5 separate regions of the Homo sapiens genome follow, and all the other regions are linked to region 2. The links come from fine-mapping of genetic effects on gene expression. A gene starts in region 2. Each other region holds a variant in brackets. All regions are shown on one strand. Distances are between the middles of the regions.

Region 1 (4,413 bases), 110 kb before region 2:
GTGAGGTAGAACACGACTGCCGTCCGGCTACTCAAGAGGCTAAGGTGGGAGGATTGGTTGAGCCCCAGGAATTCAAGGCTGCAGTGAGCTATGATTGCACCACTGCACTCCAGCCTGGACGACAGAGCGAGACCCTGTCTCAAAAAAAAAAAGAGGCTGATGGACCCCCCAGGACCCACTTCCAAGACAGCAGTCATAAGTCACAGGCCGCTGGGCAGCCACTTCATTTATATCCCGGTTTTCCCTTCTGCTATTTCTTTCTCTTTTTAAAAAGTGTTTTGTAGAGATGGAATCTCACTACGTTTCCCAGGCCAATCTCAAACTTTTGGGCTCCCAAAATGCTGGGATTAGAAACTGTTTCTTTCTCTATTAAGTAAAAATGTATCTGTTTGTATTCTCCTACCTCTTTGTATGTAAATTATAACATAATATACACAAGAATCGAGGCTTTTTTTGTTTGTTTTCTTGTTTGTTTTTGAGATGGAGTCTCGCTCTGTTACCCAGGGTGGAGTGCAGTGGCGTGATCTCAGCTCACTGAAGACTCCACCTCCGAGGTTCAAGTGATTCTTCTGCCTCAGCCCCCAGGGTAGCTGGGATTACAGGTGTGTGCCACCACACCCAGCTAATTTTTGAATTTTTAGTAGAGATGGGGTTTCACCATGTTGACCAGGCTGGTCTCAAACTTCTGGCCTCAAGAGATCTGCCCGCCTTGGCCTCCCAAAGTGCTGGGATTACAGGCGTGAGCCACCGTGCCCAGCCAGTTTGTTTTTTTCTTTTTACTGGTTACAGCAGCAACAGGAGAATCAAGGTTTTTGGGGTTTCTTAAAGTAAACTTTAAAAAACTGATTACATGCTTGAACCCAGGAGGTGGAGGTTGCAGTGAGCCGAGATCGTGCCACTGCACTCCAGTCTGGCAACACAGCAAGACTGTGTCTCACAAAAAAAAAAAAGAAAAAAGAGAAAAAATTACAAATATAGCACATATTTGTGGAAAATACACACAAACCTATAATCTCACTGCCCAGCTCTACGCAGGAACCACATTGCAGGAGCATATGGAAACTGACAAGAGAGGTGTGGAGATTTTGTACATACATTTTTAGAAAAACAAAACAAATTTATTATGGTAAATTGAAGAAGCCAGTTACAAAAGGCCACCTATTGTAGGATTCCACATATATGAAATGTCCAGATGAGGCATATCCATAGAAACAGAAAGAAGGCCGGGCGTGGTGGCTCACAGCTGTAATCCCAGCACTTTGGGAGGCTGAGGTGGGCAGATCACCTGAGGTCAGGAGTTGGAGACCAGCGTGGCCAACATGGTGAAACCCCGTCTCTACTAAAAATACAAAAATTAGCTGGGCGTGGTGGCACATGCCTGTAATCCCAGCTACTTGGGAGGCTGAGGCAGGAGGATCGCTTGAACCCTGGAGGCAGAGGTTGCAGGGAGCCGAGATTGTGCCACTGCACTCAAGCCTGGGCAACAAGAGTGAAACTCTGTCTCAAAAAAAAAAAAAAAAAAAAGAAAGAAACATAAAGTAGATGGTGGTTGCCAGGGTTTGGATGGAAGGGGGCATAGGAGTGACTACTAACAGTCCGAATTTCTCTTTGGGGTTTACAAAAACTGTCCAGAATTAAAGAGTGGTATTGGAAGTGGTATTTTCTCAATTAAACATAAAAATGCCCTGGCACAGTTGCTCATGTCTGTAGTCACTCCCAGCATTTCGAGAGGCTGGGAAGGAGGATTTCTTGAGCTCAGGAGTCCGAGACCAGCCTGGGCAACAAAGTGAGACCCTGTCTCTACAAAAAATAAAAAATTAGCTGAGTGTCGTGGCACAACCTGTAGTCCCAGCTACTAAGGAGGCTGAGGTGGCAGGATCACTTGAGTCAGGGAGGTCGAGGCTGCAGTGAGCCATGATCATGTCACTGTGTTCCAGCCTGGGCAACAGAGTGACTGAGACTGTTTCAAAAAAAAAAAAAAAAAAAAAAGAGAGAG[A/C]GAGAATAGAACCAAGGAACTGTCCTCTGTCCTCTTGTTTCCTCTCCTCTTCACTGTACTTCAGAATCATTCTGAACACTGGAGTCTTCATTGCTGTCACGCTCTGTCCATCAGGGCCCTCGACTGTAGGGAGTCACAGGCCCAAGTGTATAAAGAGCTGGGTTAGAGATCCCAAGCCCTGATGAGACTTGCCTGCACATGTGCTATATGGACTCGGATCTGGAACCACACTGAAGCCACAGTGATGAAGCGATGAAGAATTTCAGAGAAATTCTTGCAGGAGATGGCTTTTCAGCTGGGCGTAGAGGCCTGGGTTTTGTGGCATGGTGGAGAGTTTCCCTTTTCATGCTGTTGGCTTCCCTCTGCTGCCCAGGTTGGGTCTAGGGCGGTGATCCTTGGAGGAGAGTGGGCATCCCCAGGAGGGCCTGACAAAGGGATGGCTGGGCCCCCTCCCAGAGTCTCTGACTCAGCAGCTCTGGGGTGGGGCCTGAGGGCTTGCATTCCCAGCAGGTCCCCAGTGATGCTGCTGGCCCCGGGGGCTACCCATTGAGGACACTGATGCTGGGAGGTGTCCCTCTGCTGCACCTGTGTCATTGAAGTGTGCTTCACTGGGCCCTGCGTGGGTTTCCCATTCTCAGGCAAACAGCCCTACACACTTTTTTTTTTTTTTTGAGATGGAGCCTTGCTCTGTTGCCCAGGCTGGAGTGCAGTGGTGCTATCTCGGCTCACTGCAACCTCCGCCTCCTGGGTTCAAGCAATTCTTCTGCCTCAGCCTCCTTGAATAGCTGGGACTACAGGCGCATGCCACCACGACCGGCTAATTTTTGTATTTCTAGTAGAGACACCTGCCTCAGCTTCCCAAAGTGCTGAGATTACAGGCATGAGCCACCACGCTCAGCCTAATTTTTGTATTTTTTTAGTAGAGACAGGGTTTCACCATGTTGGCCAGGCTGATCTTGAACTCCTGACCTCAAGTGATCCACCCGCCTCGGCCTCCCAAAGTGTGGGGATTACAGGCGTGAGCCACCTCGCCTGGCCTCTATACACTTTTGAATAACACATGTATTGAGATATAATTCTCATAGCCTAAAAGTCACCCTTTTAAAATGTGCAACTCAAGGATTTAGTATATTCAGAGTTGTGCAGCCATGACCATTTTCTCATTTTAGAACATTTTAAACTCCCCAACAAGAAACCTGGTACCTATTAGCAGTCACATCCTGTTATCTAACCCCACTCCCCATCCCCTGGGAAGCACTAATCTGCTTTCTGCCTCTATGGATTTGTTGATTCTGAGCATTTTGCATAAATGGGATAACACAGCCTTTTGTGTCTGGCTTTTTACTTAGCATAATGTTTTCTTTCTTTCTTTCTTTTGAGATGGTCTCCCTTCATCGCCAGGCTGGAGTGCAGTGGCACAATCTCAGCTCACTGCAACCTCCGCCTCCCGGGTTCAAGTGATTCTCCTACCTCAGCCTCCCGAGTAGCTGGGACTACAGGCGCCTGCCACCATGCCCGGCTAATTTTTTGTATTTTTAGTAGAGATGGGGTTTCACCATGTTGGCCAGGATGGTCTCCATCTCTTGACCTCGTGATCCACCCGCCTTGGCCTCCCAAAGTGCTGAGATGACAGGCGTGAGCCACCGCGCGCCCAGCCAGCATAATGTTTTCAAGTTTGATTTATATTGCAGCATGTATCCACACTTCTCTTTTTAGTCAAATAATATTCCATTGTAGTTACACATTGTTTTTAACTTGTTCTTAAAGATAAATTTTACTGGCCAGGTGCAGTGGCTCACGCCTATAATCCCAGCACTTTAGGAGGCCGAGGTGGGAGGATCACTTGAGGCCAGGAGTTCAAGACCAGCCTGGCCAACATGGTGAAACCCCATCTCTACTAAAAATACAAAAATTAGCCGGGTGTGGTGACCCACACCTGTAATCCCAGCTACTCGGGAGGCTGTGGCAGGAGACTCGCTTAAACCCGGGAGACAGATGTTACAGTGAGCGGAGACTGCACCACTGCACTCCAGCCTGGGCAACAGAGCAAGACTCTATCTCAAAAGTTATATACAAAAAAATATATATATATACACAAACAAAACAAAAACAGCCAGGCGTGGTGGTGTGCACCCATAATTCCAGCTGTCTGGGAGGCTGAGGCAAGAGAATTCCCTCTACCCGGGAGGTGGAGGTTGCAGTGAGCGGAGATTGCACCATTGCACTCAAGCCTGGGGGAAAGAGTGAGACTCTGTCTCAAAAAAAAAAAAGGTAAGTTTTACCAAAAAAAACTTATTATTTTTTTCTTCACAGGGAGAGGAGAGGGAGATAGGAAGTTCAAGTCTTTACTTTTTTAATTAATTAATTAATTATTATTATTATTTTTACTAATTCCTACTCAGAATGCAAAGATAACT
Region 2 (4,413 bases):
GGCCATCAGAGGAGCATGTGGTGTGACTTTGCTTTAGTACCCCCACCTCTCTGGGCCTAGGTTTCTCCGATGAGACCAGGAGTGAGCCCCCAGGTGACTTCTGTCCTTGTCCACCTGGGAGGCTCAGGCTTACGCTTGTAGAGCCTTAGCTGGGTGGCCATTATGTGCCTGGGGGTTGCACGAAAAGCAGGGCCTGGGGGCAGGGGGGTGGCCTGTGCCCCAGTGCTACAGCACCAGACAGTGCCAGTCCTTGACCCACAAACCTGGGGCAGGGGGCATGGATATGATCTCTCCCAGGTGGGCCTATGAGGATGGGCAGCGAAGGACATTCCAGGCAAGGAGGCTGCGCGAGCGACGTGCAGAGGAGACCACAGATGTGCCGGGAGGCGCCAAGCAGGCCTGCTTTCAGGTGAAGTGTTCCTGCCCCAAACCCCGGTGTTTCCAGGAGGGCAGCACGGACGGTAGCGCCACTGCAGAAGGAACTCTGCCCATCCGGGGAAAGAATCCCCACTCCCCAAAGCCTGGAAGGAGGTGTTGGCCTGGGGACAGCCCTTCACCCCCACCCGCTGGAGCTGATAGTGGGTGGGGAGCAAGGGTGGAGCAAACAGCGAGATCAGAAGCGGGAGGGGAAGGTGAGAATGGAATCCGCAGAGGACACGCCCCCTCTGTCTCCAGGGCACCCAGCGATTAGCAGCAAATTCTGGGCTTTGTGCCCCGCAGCTTCCCACTGGGTAACCGACCGGGAAGTTCTAACTCCCCTCAGCGCACAACACCTCCCCAACACACTCCCTTTTCAACGAGTCTCTCCCCCAAGAAGCAGGCTCCGACGCCACAGATTTAATACTTAAGGCCACCGCTACCCACTCTTCCGCCAGGGCTCTCAGCGCTGGCCGGGAGCTGAGGGTTTATTCGAGCCAAATCCAAGTAGATGAAGAGGCGGTGAACAAGGGCAGGTGCTGGGAGAAAAGTGGGACCAAACAGGGATAAGCGGCCGGCCCTCTCAGCAACTCCCGCCGCCAACCACCCTCCCCCGCCCCCGACATCTAAATCCTGGTGAATAAATTAACCCTCAAGGTAAAAGCAGAGAAGCCAGAGGCCCAACAGGGAAGTGCCGTGCCCGACGCCCACGGTCGGGGCATGGGAGAGCCTGGACTGCACGCCCGCCCGGGCCCTCCCGGGGACAACTGCATGGGAGGAACCCCAGAGCCGCGACCGCGCCTCGGAGAAGGTGCCCCACACCGGCTCGCCCGACCCACCCACCACCCCCCTTCCGCCCCCAACAGCTCACAAAACCGCGTAGGAAGGGGCGGCGTTCCAAGGCGTGACTCGGCGCCAGAGTGGTTCAGTGCCCTCCAAGGCCAGCCGAGTAGGGGGTCGGCTCCGTAGCCCCAACCCCGCTGGATGGCTGCGCGGGACGGGGTGGAGTCAGTCCCGAAATATACGGCCGGGGGAGGGGACCCTGCTCCCAGTGCGCAACGGATGGGGATGGGGGAGGGGAAGGAGATGAGCCCGGGACCTCGGCGCGGGGGGCAGTGGGGCATCCTCCCGGCAGTCCTGGCCTCCGCTCAGCCACGGTGCTGCCCCGGCGCCCCAGACCTCCCGTCCGAGCGTGCCCAGAGAGAATAAAGACACCTGCCCTCGCGGACAGCCCGGGCCTGAAGTCAATTTACGCCCACGAGACCCGCCCGAGGCAAGAGAACTGTGGTCCCCATTCACAGACGCGGCGACCCCCGCCAGCGGGAAGCCGCGAGGCCAGGGCGTGCTGGTGGGCCGACCTCCCTCCCCGGACGCCTCGCCCCGGCCCGGCCCGGCCCGCCGCCTCCTTACCCCCCGCGCATCCAGCCAAGAAGTCCAGCGCCATGGCCGGGTCCCCGGCGAGGCCGCCTTTCCTCCTCGTCCTCCCCCTGAGGCCCCTCGCCGGGCTGGGCGCCGTCGGGGTCCCCGAGCGCGCGGTGCCGGGGCTGGGCCTGGCCGCTCCTCCTGGCGCGGAGCCCGGGCAGGCGCGGTCAGGGATGGTGGGGATGGCGGCAGCAGCTAGACCCGCGCTGGTCCCTCGGCGGCAGCTGACTCGCTGGATCCCCTCCGGCCCGCGGTCCCTCACCTCGGGCCGCGCGCCCCGCCCCTCGTGCCTGCCGGCAGGGCCCGGGTGGGGGCGCCGAGTGAGGCCAATGGGCGGGCACGGCGCGGACAACACCCCGGGCACTGCGCTTCGCCGCCGCGCCTCATTGGCCGGGCGTGCGCGGGAGGCGGGGCGCGGGGGACGTGGTGGGCGCGCGGGCGGGGCGCGGGGACGCCTCAGACAAAGAGCGCGCTGGGTGCGCAGGTCCGGCGGGAGGGGACGCGCGGGGTGGCGGGGTTGAGCCGAGGACTCCCCCACCCGGAGTACGCGGGGTGGCTCTGGTCTGGACCGGGTCGGGAACCGGACCCTGGGTTCGGAGTCCGGCGCCGCCGCAGAACCTCAGCGCCCTAGTCTGTGCCGTGCGGACCCTGCCGCGAAAACGGCCGTGGAGCGCCGGGACGTTCCGAGGCCCGCAGACTGGGACGCCGCTAGTTGCGAAACTCCGCGAGCGGGAATCGCCCGTGGGGAGCCTCTGCCCGTCCCGCCTGCGCGCCCGCGGCGGCGGTGGCCTCCGGGGCTTCCGGACTCCTGGCCGAACCCGCCGGGTTCTGGGGGTCGGACGCGCACGGGCGCTTCCTGCGGAGCCTGAGGCTGGGATTTGGGCGGAGAGCAGGGAACCTTAAAAGGGAAAGGGGCCATGGGCAAAGGGCGCAGCAGGCCTTCGGGCCACAGCTCCTTCCCGAGGACTGCGGGTCGCGGGAGCCGCGGAAGGTTGTGGAGAGAGGGAGGTTCCTGGACTGGGCTGCAGAGTGGAGTCGGGCCAGATCGCAGCGCCTCCGTCAGCGGCGGCCGGACGGGGCGAGACCGGAGGGGCTCGGTAGGGGCCGCGCTCAGGCGCTGAAGTCGGAGGGTGCTTGGCTCTGGGTCACCAGGGTATCCATGGGCTGCGGGGATGAATGAGAGCCGAGTCTGACTCGGCCCCCCAGGAGTCCCTGACATTCGCAGTGGCAAGGGACTGCCCTGGTCCCTGTGGAGCGTCCCATTCGGTGACTTCCCACCAGCCCTTCCCCAGCGCCTCTGGAGGTCCAGACTGTCAGGTTGGAGCCTGGGAGCAGGGACGGGCCAGGCGCTTTCTCTTCGCTGTAGGAGTCAGATCAGCCTTAGGCCGGGCCCAGCTTCCTTCTTTAGGGCCTGCAGGCAGGCAAGGCCACACCGTGTGCCACGTTTCCAGGTTTAGGGTCACATGGTTCTTTTATCCAAATTCCAGTGGGTACCTACCTCCTGGAGGTGCAGGTCGAAAGGTTCTGTGTATTTGGTACTAGGACACACAGGTAGGTGTTGTCAGTAGTGCAGCCTGGTGCTAGGGGCAGGGGTCCCCAGTGCTCATGTTAGTTTCCTTTTAGAGTCTAAGTAGAATGTTAAGCAGAGACCCAAACCCTAGGTCTGCTGACTCCTAGTCCAGGGCTCGTGATGGCTGGTGGGCCCTGAACGAGGGGTCTGGAGGCCTGGGTTTGAATATCGACAGCCTCTCTGACCCACTTGGTTGCCTCAGGGAGGCAGGTGTGCGGATGGGGGAGAGTGGCCCATGGGCCAGAAAAGCAGTGGTATGGGGGCCCCAAGAGAAGCCCAGACCCAAAAGGGCAGGAGCTGGCTGTGGGGCTACTCAGGTGGCTGGAGGCCTCCTGCAGACACAGTGATTACACTGGACTACCTACATGTAGTCACTTACCTTAGGAACAGGATGTCCTTGGGATGCTGGAGGGCTCATGAGGTAAAGCACAAATCCCTGCACATCCATTCCTGGTTGAGGAGGTTTGGGAGGGAAATCCAGTACCTTGACAGCATGTGGCAGTAGTGAGAAAATGATGGAAACGGATAAGGAGACAAGCATGACCTGTTTTGCTTTGTTATTGAGAGAATGCACATGCCTTGAAAATTATGCTTGGGGCAGGTTGCACTGAGCTGTCAGTCCCTGGGGTCCTTGGGAAGGGGCCTAGTAGCCTGGTAAACAGTAGGTATTCCATAGTTGAGCTTCAGAAACCTCCTTGAGGCTGGGTTCAGTGGCTCATGCCTGTAATCCAGGCACTTTGGGAGGCTGAGGCAGGAGGATCGCTTGAAGCCAGGAGTTTGAGGCCAGCCTGGGCAACATAGTGAGGCCCCATCTCTAAAAAAAAAAAAAATCGGCAGGATGTGGTGGCGCATGCCTGCAGGCCTGTAGTCCTAGCTACTCAGGAGGCCGAGGCAGGAGGGTCGCTTGAGCCCAGGAGGTCAAGGCTGCAGTGAGCTATGATCGAACCATTGTGCACCAGCCTGGATGACAGAGCAAGACCCTATTTCAAAAAGAAAAACCTCCT
Region 3 (4,413 bases), 35 kb after region 2:
CCCTGCTGGGCCTTGGGGAAGAAGCTTCAGTGTCAGGAAGAAAGTCTGAGAACACAGGTCCTGGCTTCCAGGGGCAGTTTGAAGAGGATATTGAAAGGCCAGTTCCCAGAACTTTATCTGAGAGGAGAACAAGGAAACTGGTGTCTGCTGCATGTTTTTCAAGATGTGCTGGCGTCACCACCACCTGCACACTCCCCCTCCCCAGGCTTTTCCCACGGTAGGCACACAGCAGATGTGCCATCCGTGGAGGCTGTTAGGGTTATGACATGCATTTTATCCCCAACAACCCAATGACCTCTGTAGTGATGTCTCTATCTTACAGGTGAAGGAAATCAGGCCCAGAGTGTCAGGAACCTGCCATATGTGACAGGGATTGGCAGGACCAGGCTGGCTCCTGGGACACCAGGCTTCTGGGTGGAGCTCGAGAACTGAGGGGCTCAGTTCTGCCTCCTTGACGTGATCAGTCCTCAGTGATGCAGGAACCAGCCTACCAGGCCTGACTTACAGGAAAACAGATGGAGGGCTGACTTGGGGGTGGGTATGGAGCACTGCTGCCAGCAACTAAGATGATGGAAGTGGGTGACCAGTGTGACTCTGTGTGACAGGAAATGATGCCGAATGGACACAGCCAGCTAGGGTGGTAGTTGGAATAAAGTTAGATAACACAGGCTTACTGTGTGCAGGTGGCAGGTACTCACTCAGCAAAGCCACCTGAGTCGTCAGCACTGTGCTACTATTTTGATTTTTTTAATTTGAGAGATGGGGCCTCACTGTGCCACCCCAGCTGGGGTGCAGTGGCTATTCACAGGCACAATAGTAGCTCACTGCAGCCTTGAATCCCTGGGCTCAAGCCATCCTCCTGAGTAGCTGGGACTACAGGCACGTGCCACTGCCCTGCCTGAACCTGTTATTTTTAGGAGGCTGGAGCAGATGTGCCCTCTCTTTTCTAGTGTGGAGATTCTGATTTTGGAGCTGAAGTCGGGCACGGGGATTTAGAGTGAGGGCCTGGGCGGGCCCTGTTCTGCCCCACAAGAAGCCTGCAGGCCCAGTGACCGTCTGTAGGCCTCTGTTTTTCCTGACCTCATGCTAACTGCTCACCTCGAGGGCTCTACTGGTCCCTAAGTGAATGATAAATGTCCCAGATCCATAAACAAGTTTTTCTTTTTTCTTTTCTTTTTTTTTTTTTTTGAGCTGGAGTCTCACTCTGTTGCCCAGGCTGGAGAACAGTGGTGCGATCTCGGCTCACTGCAACCCCTGTCTTCCAGGGTCAAACAATTCTCCTGCCTCAGCCTCCCGAGTAGCTGGGATTATAGGTGCCTGCCACCAAGCCTGGTTAATTTTTGTATTTTTAGTAGAGACAGGAGTTTCACCATGTTGGCCACGCTGGTCTCGAACTCCTGACCTCAGGTGATCCACCTGCCTCGGCCTCTCAAAGTGCTGGAATTATAGGTGTGAGCTATCGCACCTGGCCATAAACAACTTTTTCCAAACAACTTCTCAGAAGCAAAATAAAACAGTGGACTTTTCCAATGGCGCTTCCCTCCCCACTCTGCACCCTGTGCTCCGGAAGTTTTGGCCAGAAGTGAAAGGGAAAGAAAAGTCTTCAATTATACCAGCTTCCAACTGAGTGGGGAGAGTTGGTGGAGGGCATGTCTTAGGAAGTTTTGATATGAAAGGCTTCCCCATTGTCAACCAGAACCTGCTTGGGACTTTCCAGAACGGTCAGGGGCAGTGACTCAGAGGGCATGTGACATGCCTCAAATACAGTTCCCAGCATTCCCACTGCAATCTTCTAGCCTGCAAACACACACTTGATTCCAAAGAAAATGTCAACTGCTTTGTGTAACAGTGAGGCAATTATATATACACTGGCTGTTGAGGAACCAGGCAACAGAACTGGGGCCATGCAAAATAAGGAAGCTCAAACTAACTTCTCCTTTTAGTTTCTCTAGTGATTTGTCAAATGTTTGCTGAATGCCTGCTGCATGCATCCCTCCTGGGGCCAGCAGGACTGTCCCGTGGATGGACGTTTCTCCGTTCTATGTCTCTCAGTGAGAACGCTCTCTGGGAGAAGACCAGCTCATAACCCCTGCTTGGTAATGGCTGCTCAGGGCCAGGAGAGCAGTGCTGCTGATTCCTGGTGGTGGAAACTTGGTCAAGTGGCTGGGCTTCTCTAAGCCTCATCATCTCATCTTTAAAGGGAATAGCACCACCACCTCCCAGTGAGAATGAAACATGAGAAAACATAAATAAGGCACCGGGTCCAGCCGCTGGAACACAGCTGATGATGAGAAATATACACAAATCTTTTCCATTATTTAATAACATCCACACTAATTATAACTTTAAGGAAATTGCCATGACTTTGCCTGCAGAACAGTGCTGATAAGAAAAGCAGAAAAGGAAAAAAAGAAAAAAAATTCAAAAT[T/A]TTACCTAAATGAAAGGACACAAAACAAATTCACCTGATTCATGTGGGAAGGACAGGCTGCCTTGAGTTCTGCAGGGAGCAAAGTTGGCAATCCTGGAGTTCAGCATTGCTACGGTGGCTGGGTGGCTGAGGCCCAAAGCACTGCGCAGTGGTGTGTGTGTGCGTGTGCCCCCCAGGGCATGTTTCTGATCCCGCTGGCTGCCCTCTGCCTGGGCCACTGCTCACCTTGGTTTTGATCTGCTTGGCCGTGTCGGTGAGGAAGATGGAGGAGTTGGGGTCGCTGGCACTCATTTTGGTCTGGGCGCCCTGCAGGGCTGGGAAGAAGGTGGAGTGCAGCAGGGCTGGTTTAGGATAGCCGATCCTGGGGGCGACGTCCCTTGTCATTCTAAAGTAAGGATCCTGTGGGGAGAGTAAGGACCCTGATGAGGGCGGCCAGAAAACATGCCAGCTTTCAGCCATGAGCAGTCCCTGTGAGCATCTTCCCAGAAGGCTCTCATGCTTCCAACCAAAGAAATTCACTCCCTCCTCCCCTTCATCTTTTCCTTTTTTTTTTTTAAATTTTACTTCCAGTTCTGGGATACATGTACAGAACACGCAGGTTTGTTACATAGGTATACATGTGCCATGGTGGTTTGCTGCACCCATCAACCCGTCATCTAGGTTTTAAGCCCCGCATGCATTAGGTATTTGTCCTAATGCTCTCCCTCCCCTTGCCCCACTCCCCAACTTTCTTTCCTTTTTTTTGAGACAGAGCCTTGCTCTGTCGCCCAGGCTAGAGTGCAGTGATGCGCTCTCGCTGCAACCTCTGCCTCTGGGGTTCAAGCGAGGCGAGTAGCTGGGATTACAGGCGCCTGCCACCACATGTGGCTAAATTTTGTATTTTTAGTAGAGACGGGGTTTCGCCATGTTGGCCAGGCTGGTCTTGAACTCCTGGCCTCAAGTGATCCGCCTGCCTTGGCCTCCCAGAGTGCTGGTATTACAGGCGTGAGCCACCCTGCCTGGCTGCCCATCATATCTTTCAATACCTCTCCCCGCTGAAGAGTAAGAGGAACCTGCTGTCAATGCCCCAGACTTAGAGAGCCTTGCTTTTCTGCCTGCTGACCTGGTCAATGGCACATGGGATAAGGCACTGGATATCCGTCCTGTCTCGGAAGATCTGTGGGAATGAGTTGCTGAAGGAGGGAGCAGCCTGGATGGCAGGAAAACTGATCTTCCCTGAAAATGAGAAAAAGTATTTTTACACGTGAGATGAGTTCCTGTTCTGCTTAGTTAATAAAGGAATGAACAAAAACAGGTTTTCTCCCATTATAAAACAATCATTAAAATAAATCTAAAAAATACAGAAAAGTAGAAAGAACAAGCTGTACAGTTGCAATGTGTCTGATTTCATCCATTTTCTTTATATATTTTACTCTATGCATTTTTGTTGTGATTACACTATATTTGGTCTTTCCTTGGCTTTTTCTTTTCCTTTTTTTTTTCTCAGAAGGAGTCTCGCTTTGTTGCCAGGCTGGAGTGTGGTGGCTCGATCTCAGCTCACCGCTACCTCTGCCTCCTGGGGTTCAAGTGATTCTCCTGCCTCAGGCTCCCGAGTAGCTGGGACTACAGGTGCGTACCACACCCAGCTGATTTTTGTATTTTTAGTAGAGATGAGGTTTCATCATGTTGGCCAGCATGGTCTCAATCTCTTGACCTCGTGATCTGCCCACCTCGGCCTCCCAAAGTGCTGGGATTACAGGCGTGAGCCACGGCGCCCGGCCTTCCTTGCCTTTTTCATTGTAATGACTATCCATGTTGTTACTAAGTATATTCTATCCTGTCAATGTATCATATCATTTAACCATTCTCTAGCCACCTTCCACCTTTAATTATCAGAAGTTATGATGGCTTCCCTCTTCCCTCTTCCCTCTCCCCACGGTCTCCCTCTCCCTCTCTTTCCACGGTCTCCCTCTGATGCGGAGCCAAAGCTGGACTGTACTGCTGCC
Region 4 (4,413 bases), 43 kb after region 2:
GTGGCATGATCTTGGCTCACTGCAACCTCCATCTCTTGGGTTCAAGCAATTCTCCTGCCTCAGCCTCCTGAGTAGCTGGGATTACAGCTGCTCGCCACCATGCCTGGCTAATTTTTGTATTTTTAGTAGAGATGGGGTTTCACCATGTTGTCCAGGCTGGTCTCAAACTCCTGACCTCAGGTGATCCACCTGCCTTGGCCTCCCAAAGTGCTGGGATTACAGGTGTGAGCCACCGCGCCCAGCCAAGTGGCTTCTTATATTGCATCTTTGTATTACTATATTCAGTAGCTTTTTCTCTAGGCCCTACCATGTGTTAGACACTACGAGGGAAAAGGGGGAAGGCTGGTGTCTTTTAAGTGTTTGCACCATGTGGCAGGAGCTGTGCTAGATGCTGCGTATGTGTCAATACTCCTAAAATCCCCTTCAAAGTAGTAGCATTGCCTCCACCTTACAGTTAGACTAGGCTCAAAGAAGTTCAGGGTCATAGTCACAGGCCCAGTGAGTACAGGGGCTGGGATCCCAACACAGATTCACCTGGCCCCAAAGCCTATGCTTTTCTCACCACATCTTATCCTTTAGAAGAGTTTAGACTTTTGGGGCAGGGTGGAGAACTACTGAATGTCTTTGTGCAGGTGGGGTGGGGTGTCAGGAGTGCAGGAACACTGGCCGTTTGTGCTGGGCGAAGCACAATGCTGGGAGGCCTGTAACGGTCAAGGTCAGTGCCAAGGCCTGTCCAGGTTGAGCAGAGGCAGCACGTGAGGGATGGACTGTGTCTTTCGCCTAGCAGCCGGCTGAGTTTCAGGCCCTGGGGGGCACTGGAGAGGGCGGGCGCAGTACTGTGAAGGGGCATGCCAGGAGAACCCAGCATCTGTGTCACCCACTCAGCACAATGGAAACAACAGAGAGCAAGAGCACAGCCAACAGCAGCACTGCCTGGAAAGATGCGGCCTTTGTCCTCCTGCCAAGCAAGCCAAGAACACCGCAGGCAGGGAGGGTCCCTCCTGGGCACCGCAGCAGGACTCACAGCCAGTAAGGACAGCAGCTGTCTGTCACCTGGGGAGATGGGCTGCAGCAAAGACTCCATGCGCCCTTGGGATTGAGGCACCTGGGACACCCTAACCCCTACAAGGAGGGAAAGTCTCCAGTACCCCCAAACTGTGGCAGGACTGTAGCTTCACGGCGTCTGACTGGTATTTCTGAGTTAGAGCACGCTGCCCTTTCTTAGAAGACTGGTCATTACTTGCTGCAAGCTGCTGCCACTGTGCTGGCTGCAGGGTGAATGCAGGTGCTGCACCGTGAGCACGTGTGATCCTCCCCTCAAGGGACGGCTGTCCCCCTGCACAGCTGGGACGGACCCATCACGCAAAGCAGCCATGCCAGTGCCGGCACATGGAGGCTTCTCACTGGCTGCAGTGAACACACCTAACTGTATATCACATGTGGCTGAACCACCAGTTACCCCAGGGAGGGCACCTGCTTTTCACTCTCAGACAGGGTTTAAAGTGGGAAGAGATTTTAGATTACAACATTTACTGAGCACTCCCCAGGTGCCAGGCGTGGCTTGAAGCACTTTATATGCAGTGCAGGCACTATCATCTCCTGACCACAGTCTTCTCTACCCCTGCCCTTTGTCCCTATTATCACCATAGAACTTATTATCACCTGATTGATCACCTGTTAGCTGATTCTCCCCATTAGAAGAGAGGCTTTACACAGCTGCTGAGATAATGGTTTTGCTCCCTGCTGTACCCCCACCATGAGTCTGGCATATAGCAGATGTCCAATAAATATTTGTAGAACAAAGGAGCAGAGTGAAGAAAGCAGGCAGAGAGGAGCTCCTCCCATGCCCGGGCCACACAGTGGAAGGCTCCTCCCATGCCCAGGCCACACAGCGGACGGCCGTCAAGCAGAGCACTTGCAACCTCTGCTATGCTGCCCCCCACTAGCACCCAGCTCCCTTCCTCACAGGAACATGGAAGCTCAGAGATTTAAGGACTTGCCCAAGGGAACAAGACCAGGCAGGGGCAGAGCTGGGTCTGGAACACAAGTTTTCAGACTCCCAGCTCAGTGCCTTTGCATCCCTCAGGGCCCTGGGCAGGAAGGCCGTTCTGGGGCCATGTGCAATGTGCAGGGGGAACTGCACTGGCCTCCTCCCTCATGGAGGCCTCACCACCTCCCTCCCACTCAAAGAGGGCGATGGCTGGCTTTGTTGAATTTCCAGCTCCTAAACACCAGGAAGGAGCTTTATTAAGCCAAAGATATAGATTTTGAGTTAAATTCAAGAAAGAAAAGTAAAATGCTCAAATGTTTAGAAGAAACTCTTAAAGTAAAATGTTTGAATAGAGGATTTACCCTTTAAAATGTCTCTCCTCACTTTAGGTTCAATATAAAATGCCTTTCAAGAAAAGATATCATCGACCCTTTTGGTTGACATACTGTCTGGGTTTCATCTTTACCCCATGTTTGTAAGAAAAAAGGAAGTTCCCGACCAGGTGCAGTGGCTCACGCATCCCAGCACTTTGGGTGGTCGAGGCGGGTGGATCACTTGAGGTCGTTCGAGACCAGCCTGGCCAACATGGTGAAACTCCGTTTCTACTAAAAATACAAAAATTAGCTGGGTGTGGTGGCGGGCGCCTGTAATCCCAGCTACTCAGGAGGCTGAGGCATGAGAATTGCTTGAACCCAGGAGGCAGATATTGCAGTAAGCCGAGATCATGCCACTGCTCTCCAGTTTGGGCGACAGAGCAAGACTCCATCTCAAAAAAAGAAAAAAAAAAAAAAAAAGGAAGTTCTTATTTAGCGA[A/G]GGTGGAGGCTGGTCAGGAGCTGCAACCGCAGTTGCCAAAGAGACAGCACGAGGAATGGCGGCCTCACTCCACGTTCAGAGAGCGCTGAAAGTGGGGTTGCTCAGGTGGTGGTCTTTTCACATGGACTGTTCAAAAGTTCATCTACCCCATCGTGCATCTATTGGCTGAATCAGCTTCATGGACTATTATAGGCACTTGCTCTTGTCTCACCACCAGCATTTATATCCATCAACGAAGCGGCTCAGCTTTGCTTCTGCTGTGTCTGTGGGGCCCAGGAGGGGATGGGCCACAGAGAGCACAAATTCAGGAACTATGTGTCTTACTCAGCTAGTGGGGAGAGGGCCACACTGTACCAGATGTGGCAGAGGTAAGGCCCAGCCTGATGGAGGACCAGAGAGGGGCATCTAAATTTGGCTGTGGGGAGGGAAAGCTCCTAGGAAAAGGTGATGCTTGATCATGCCTTTGGAAGAAAGTGTAGGAATTAGCTAAGCTGGGGGTGGCAGGGTCAGGAGAGTGGGTGGGAATTCTGGGCAGCACAGAGCATGTACAAAGGAGAAGGATGTGGAACTGCAAGCTGTTCCACTGAGCTGGAGGTAGCAGTGACGCTGGAGAGGAACACAGGGCCAATCACGAAAGGGCTCGTGTGCCAAGTGAAAGGTGAGAATTCTCAATGTCATCTAAGGAGGAGAGCTGGGAAAGACCCGCAAGTGGAAGATGAGATTAGCTCTGAGTTTTAGGGAGATCACTGGCTGGTGGGGGCAGTGGTGGTGTGGGAAGAGGATAGCAGCTACTGGGCAATGCCAGCAGCACTGCCTGACTGGAAAAGGAGAAGCAGAACCCACAGTTGTCTCTGCAGAGGTTCAATCAGTTGAATCATTGTATGGAATGGGGTGAGAATAAGGAAATAAAGTGCCATGAAAATTATACTAACACGGCTGGGCATGGTGGCTCACACCTGTAATCGCAGCACTTTGGGAGGCTGAGGCGGGGAGGATCACTTGAGGTCAGGAGTTCAAGACCAGCCTGGCCAACATGGCAAAACCCATGAGTGAGACTCTGTCTCAAAAAAAAAAAAAAAAAAGAAAATTATGCTAATGATGACATCTATGTTCTTGTTTGATCCCATTTCATGGACACGGCTGCTATGACACACAGCCACTAAACCCAGGTGCCAGGATCTGGATCCCTGTCTATTTTCCTTCCTTCAAGGATGCCACAGGGCCTCCATGCTCACATGGCTGAACCAAGAGAAGTAATTTTAAAAGATCTAATAGGTGCTGGGCGTGGTGGCTCATGCCTGTAATCCCAGTGCTTTGGGAGGCCGAGGCAGGCAGATCATGAGGTCAGAAGATCGAGACCATCCTGGCTAACACAGTGAAACCCCGTCTCTACTAAAAATACAAAAAATTAGCCGGACATGGTGGCGGGCACCTGTAGTCCCAGCTACTTGGGAGGCTGAGGCAAGAGAATGGTGTGAACCTGAGAGGCGGAGCTTGCAGTGAGCCGAGATTGTGCCACTGCACTCCAGCCTGGGTGACAGAGCGAGACTCCGTCTCAAAAAAAAAAAGAAAAAGAAAAAGCTAACAGTTTTACTGGCTGATAGAAGGGC
Region 5 (4,413 bases), 59 kb after region 2:
GAGGTTGCAGTGAGCCGAGATTGCACCACTGCACTCCAACCTGGGTGATGAAGTGAGATCCCCACCCCACAAAAAACCCAGAACATCAGTTTTTTTTAGACAGGGTCTCACTTCAGTCTCCTGAGTAGCTGGGACTGCAGGTGTGTGCCACCATGTCTGGCTAATTTTTAAATTTTTTGTAGAGACAGGGTCTCACTATATTATCCAGGCTGGTCCCAAACTCTTGGCCTGAAGCGATCCTCCTGCCTTGGCCTCCTAAGTGCTGGGATTATAGGCATGAGCCACGGAGCCTCGCCAAAAGCTGATGTTCAGAAAAAAAAGCCAGACACAAGACTGTATTACATACAGTTCAAACCCAGGTAGAGCTACCCCTGGTGGGAGGAGTCATGGCAGAGGCTGAGGCGCGTGAGGGTGGCTTCTAGGTGCTCTCTGCTTGCTGTTGATTTGGGTGCTGGTTACACAGGTGTGGTCATTTTGTGAAAATTCAGTGAGGTGCCTGCTTGTGCTTATGATCAGCATGTTTTTCTATATGAATGGTATATTTTGATTTTAGAAGTTACTTAAACAAAAAGGAGAAGAAGAAAAAGGCTCTGCTCTCTTTCTTAATACCTAAGACCTAGCATTGCTTCTTTAGTCCTGCTCAAACTATTTCCCCTCACAGCCCTCAGATGCTGACTTATTTCCCCCTAGGAAACTTGCCGCTTTAATGAGCTGCTGCTACTGAAGGATGTGGATCTTATTCTTTAGATACACTGGAGCAGAAAAGACCTTCAAGGTCCATGGCCTAGATAAATGGCAGGAGAAGAAAGAGCTCAAGGTGCCCTCTCTTAGAACTGGCACTCCCAATGTGGCTCACACTATTTTGCTAAAAGTTAATTTTTAAAATTTCCAAAACATCAAGTGCTTCTACTACCAAGACATTTCAGGGTCAGATACAAATGTACTTCTGAATTTTTCACCACTTAACTCTGGTCTCATTGTGCAACCTCTGATGTCTTCAACGTGTGCCAGCCAATTGCATTAGTCAAATAATACACTTGGAAGAGTTATTATAAAATGTATTAAGTTGACTAAAATAATGAACATAACTGCAGTCACTAAGAATTACTAACTAAAAACATTTACTAAATGTTATTCAAATTTAATATTAAATGGACAAAAATACCACTGTCAACTTCCCAAAATGATGGGCTTACATAACCCCACTGGGTCTTTTATTTATTTTATAATTTTGTTTTAAAACAACTTGGTTTAATCGTTTGAGGCCTACCTGGTGAGTAAATCTCTTTCTGTAAAAAAGTAACTTTTTTTTGACATTACTTTCTTTCAGTACTATTTATTTCATTTAAAATATGAGCTGGGTGCAGTGGCTTGCATCTATAATTCCAGCAACTTGGCAGGCTAAGGTGGGAGCCCAGGAGTTTGAGGGTGCACTGAGCTAGGATTGCACCACTGCACTCCAACGTGGAAAGAGCGAGACCCTGTCTCAAAAAATACACACACACACACACACACACACACACACACACACACAAATAATGATTTAAATCAGGGTCCCAAATAGTCAAAGTAAACTACTGGGGAATGTGAGATGGTTGACACAATCTGGTGACAAGCAAGGTGTTTGAAAAGATAACAGATAACAGGAGTTAAAAGTGTCGGAAGTCGGGCCGGGCGTGGTGGCTCACACCTGTCATCCCAGTACTTTGGGAGGCTGAGGCGGGCGGATCACCTGAGATCAGGAGTTCAAGATTAGCCTGGCCAACATGGCAAGACCCCCTCTCTACTAAAAATACAAAAATTAGCCGGGTGTGGTGGCGGGCGCCTGCAGTCCCAGCTACTTACGAGGCCAGGGCAGGAGAATCGCTCGAACTCAGGAGGCAGAGGTTGTAGTGAGCCAAGACTGTGCCAGTGCACTCCAGCCTGGGCGACAGAGTGAGACTCAGCCTCAAAAAAAAAAAAAAAAAAAAAGTGATGGAAGTCATGGAGAAGCCGGAGTGGAGTCACCCCAGAAGGAAATGAAATGCTTATGTTCTAGTTAAAGATGCGTATTGATGATGATATTTCTGAAATCTACTACAACAAAAGCAGAGATCTT[CT/C]TTTTTTTTTTTTTTTTTAAAGCATAATCCCACAAGGACAAAGGAAACAAGAAGAGGATGACAGCAACAAGGTTTCAGAAGCCAGAAAGCTGATGAATGATCAGTGCCTAACAGCATGAGAGAAAAACAAATGCTAAGACATCATGGAAATACTGGAAGGTGACCGAGTGTACACTGTTACGGAATCACCCAAAGGTTCGGGCCTTAGTGACCTTGCGCACTTACAGGAGTGGGGGCAGGAAAGCGGGTTATGAAAACAGGAGCGCTGGTTGAAGTCTCTTCAAGAAGCAGTTATTGAGAATCCCTCTCCCCTCGGCCAAGGGAGTGTCACAGTTTCCCCTCCATTCCAAGGTTTCATGTCAAGAGAGGACAGAGTTACAGGTGCCTAGACTGGGGGCAGTCTGCACAGTTGGGGCACTGGCAGCACACAGAGAATAGGGAGCTTCGGGGAAGGATCCCACAGCCCAGCCCTTCTCTCCCACTCAGCCGTAGAACTCTGGCAGCGGGACTCACCCCCTCTGAACAGTGGACTGGGGGAGCTTTCTCTGGGGAATCTCACTTAACTTTAAAGAAAAGATCTAAAGACCTTGACACGAAAGATTCCCCAACAAAAGGGGAGCAGCCTGGTCACTCTCCAGGAAGTGGAACCTATGTTGATAAGCTCTTCCCCAATGAAGAGTGCATCCAGCAGCTTTCAGTGCACCCCCCAAAACACCAGCAAATAGCCAAGAAACACCAAACAGTTGAGAATTGCCTCTAATATGAAAGGCAGGTAGAAAACAAATTAAGATGGAAGAAACTGAGGTTATAAAGGATGTAGAGGACATATGGAAAACTACCATTAAGATCTCAGAGAGAGAGAGTTGAGTGTCCTGAGAGGTCAGATTGCTGTCAGACATGGCCCATGGACATGGACATGAGCATGGACATCGTAAAATGGAACTTCTAGATTACAGACAACGGAAGACAGAAGGGACACCATTAGAAACTATCCAGAAGAAGCTGGCTGAAAAAGGGCTAAGGGATCCGTGGGGCCACAATGAAGCTTGAAGATACATGGGTGGCTTTGCAAAGAGTGTTTCCTTTTTTGATGTATTGTTTAAAGGATTCAAATGGGGATTTGCTGCATTTGTGGTAGCTGTAGGAGCTGAATATTACCTGGAGTCCCTGAATAAAGATAAGAAGCATCACTGAAGATAATACCTGGAAGTATCATAGTGGTTTCTTAACTCTCCAAAATAAGATTTCTTCACTGTAGCCTACTCGTCTGGTTTGTCCCTTACAGAATATTAGTAAGATTTAATACAGTAAAATAAGATTAAAAAAAAAAATCTCAGAGAGAAAAGGGTGGTACTGTACCTATGAGTCAGGGCAGAGTGCTGTGAGGAAACTTCAGGGAGCATACATGCTCCTGGAAGTTAAAAATGATAGCAGAAATGGAAAACAATAGGAGGGTTAGAAAATCAGAGAAACAGTCTCTGAATTAAAAAAAAAAGTCTGTGAAGAGAGAAAACAGAAGAGATCAAAGAAATCATGATTTCTGAGAATTAACGGCCATGAGTTTCTAGTCTAAAAGGCAGGCTGAGTGTGGTGGCTCACGCCTGTAATCCCAGCACTTTCGGAGGCCGAGGTGGGCAGATCATGAGGTCAGGAGTTTGAGATCAGCCTGGCTAATATAGTGAAACCCCGTCTCTACTAAAAATACAAAAATTAGCCTGGTATGGTGGCGGATGCCTGTAATCCCAGCTACTTGGGAGGCTAAGACAGGAGAACTGCTTGAACCCAGGAGGCGGAGGTTGCGGTGAGTCGAGATTGTGCCACCACACTCCAGCCTGGGTGAAAGAGTGAGATTCCATCTCGGGGGGCGGGGGTGGGGTGGCAAAAAAAAAAAAAAAAAAAAAAAGAAAGGCATACTGAACCTGCATCCCATGAAATTTCAGAACACGGGAACAAAGAAGATCCTGCTAACTTCCAAAAAGAAAAAACAAAGGAATGGCAACTGACTTCTCTGCAGCAAGCCCAGAAGCTAGGTGCCAATAGAGCAGTGGCTTCAGCATTTCCAGGGGAAATCACTTCCATGCTAGAACCCTACACCCAGCCTGGCTATCAATCATGTTTTAGGTAAAATAAATACGCTTTCAGATGGGCAAGATCCCCCTAGAAATATTTCCTTTGCAATATTTTTTTCAGAAACAATTGGAAGATTTGCTCTGCCCAAAGAGTAAAGCAAAGAGGAATAAAGATGCAGGAGCAGGAAACGGGGCACCCAATCGACAGGGGTGAAAGAACCCCTTGGGTCGACAGTGAAGAAAGA

Alleles and levels. Alleles are on the strand shown, and positions count from the first base shown. SD is a standard deviation of normalised expression in the study named. Not every link is listed here.
As copies of A replace C in region 1, the expression in ileum of the gene that starts at base 2,073 in region 2 goes down (small effect, 0.37 SD a copy in GTEx).

What was found. PIP is the estimated chance that this variant, and not a neighbour inherited with it, causes the effect. A credible set is the group of variants that fine-mapping cannot tell apart.
Region 1: its variant is the best candidate, but not a certain one, in a credible set for the expression of SLC25A29 in ileum (GTEx, PIP 0.74).
Region 3: its variant is the best candidate, but not a certain one, in a credible set for the expression of SLC25A29 in whole blood (INTERVAL, PIP 0.56).
Region 4: its variant is the best candidate, but not a certain one, in a credible set for the expression of SLC25A29 in whole blood (TOPMed, PIP 0.71).
Region 5: its variant is the best candidate, but not a certain one, in a credible set for the expression of SLC25A29 in monocytes (Fairfax 2014, PIP 0.50).

Annotation. Positions count from the first base shown.
Region 1 is chr14:100,197,239-100,201,651 of GRCh38, forward strand. No RefSeq gene overlaps it. Among named protein-coding and RNA genes, the nearest start is that of YY1-DT, 39 kb to the right of the region's middle. The variant A/C (reference allele first, on the strand shown) is at 1,997.
Region 2 is chr14:100,304,372-100,308,784 of GRCh38, forward strand. It overlaps SLC25A29 (solute carrier family 25 member 29), which reads right to left and starts at 2,073. Exons shown (of 4, transcript NM_001039355.3): 1 at 1,828-2,073. The coding sequence starts at 1,861. It overlaps MIR345 (microRNA 345), which reads left to right and starts at 3,488; the gene lies at 3,488-3,585. RefSeq lists enhancers at 567-646, 697-756, 1,009-1,575, 2,784-2,853, 2,884-3,053 and silencers at 1,904-2,003, 2,064-2,533, 2,624-2,693.
Region 3 is chr14:100,339,745-100,344,157 of GRCh38, forward strand. It overlaps WARS1 (tryptophanyl-tRNA synthetase 1), which reads right to left. Exons shown (of 11, transcript NM_004184.4): 8 at 3,531-3,643; 9 at 2,654-2,827. Among named protein-coding and RNA genes, the nearest start is that of SLC25A47, 19 kb to the left of the region's middle. The variant T/A (reference allele first, on the strand shown) is at 2,429.
Region 4 is chr14:100,347,633-100,352,045 of GRCh38, forward strand. The region is part of intron 6 of WARS1 (tryptophanyl-tRNA synthetase 1); the gene reads right to left. Among named protein-coding and RNA genes, the nearest start is that of WARS1, 26 kb to the right of the region's middle. The variant A/G (reference allele first, on the strand shown) is at 2,804.
Region 5 is chr14:100,363,630-100,368,042 of GRCh38, forward strand. All of the region lies in intron 2 of WARS1 (tryptophanyl-tRNA synthetase 1), which reads right to left. It also overlaps the pseudogene NDUFB3P4. Among named protein-coding and RNA genes, the nearest start is that of WARS1, 9.5 kb to the right of the region's middle. The variant CT/C (reference allele first, on the strand shown) is at 2,099.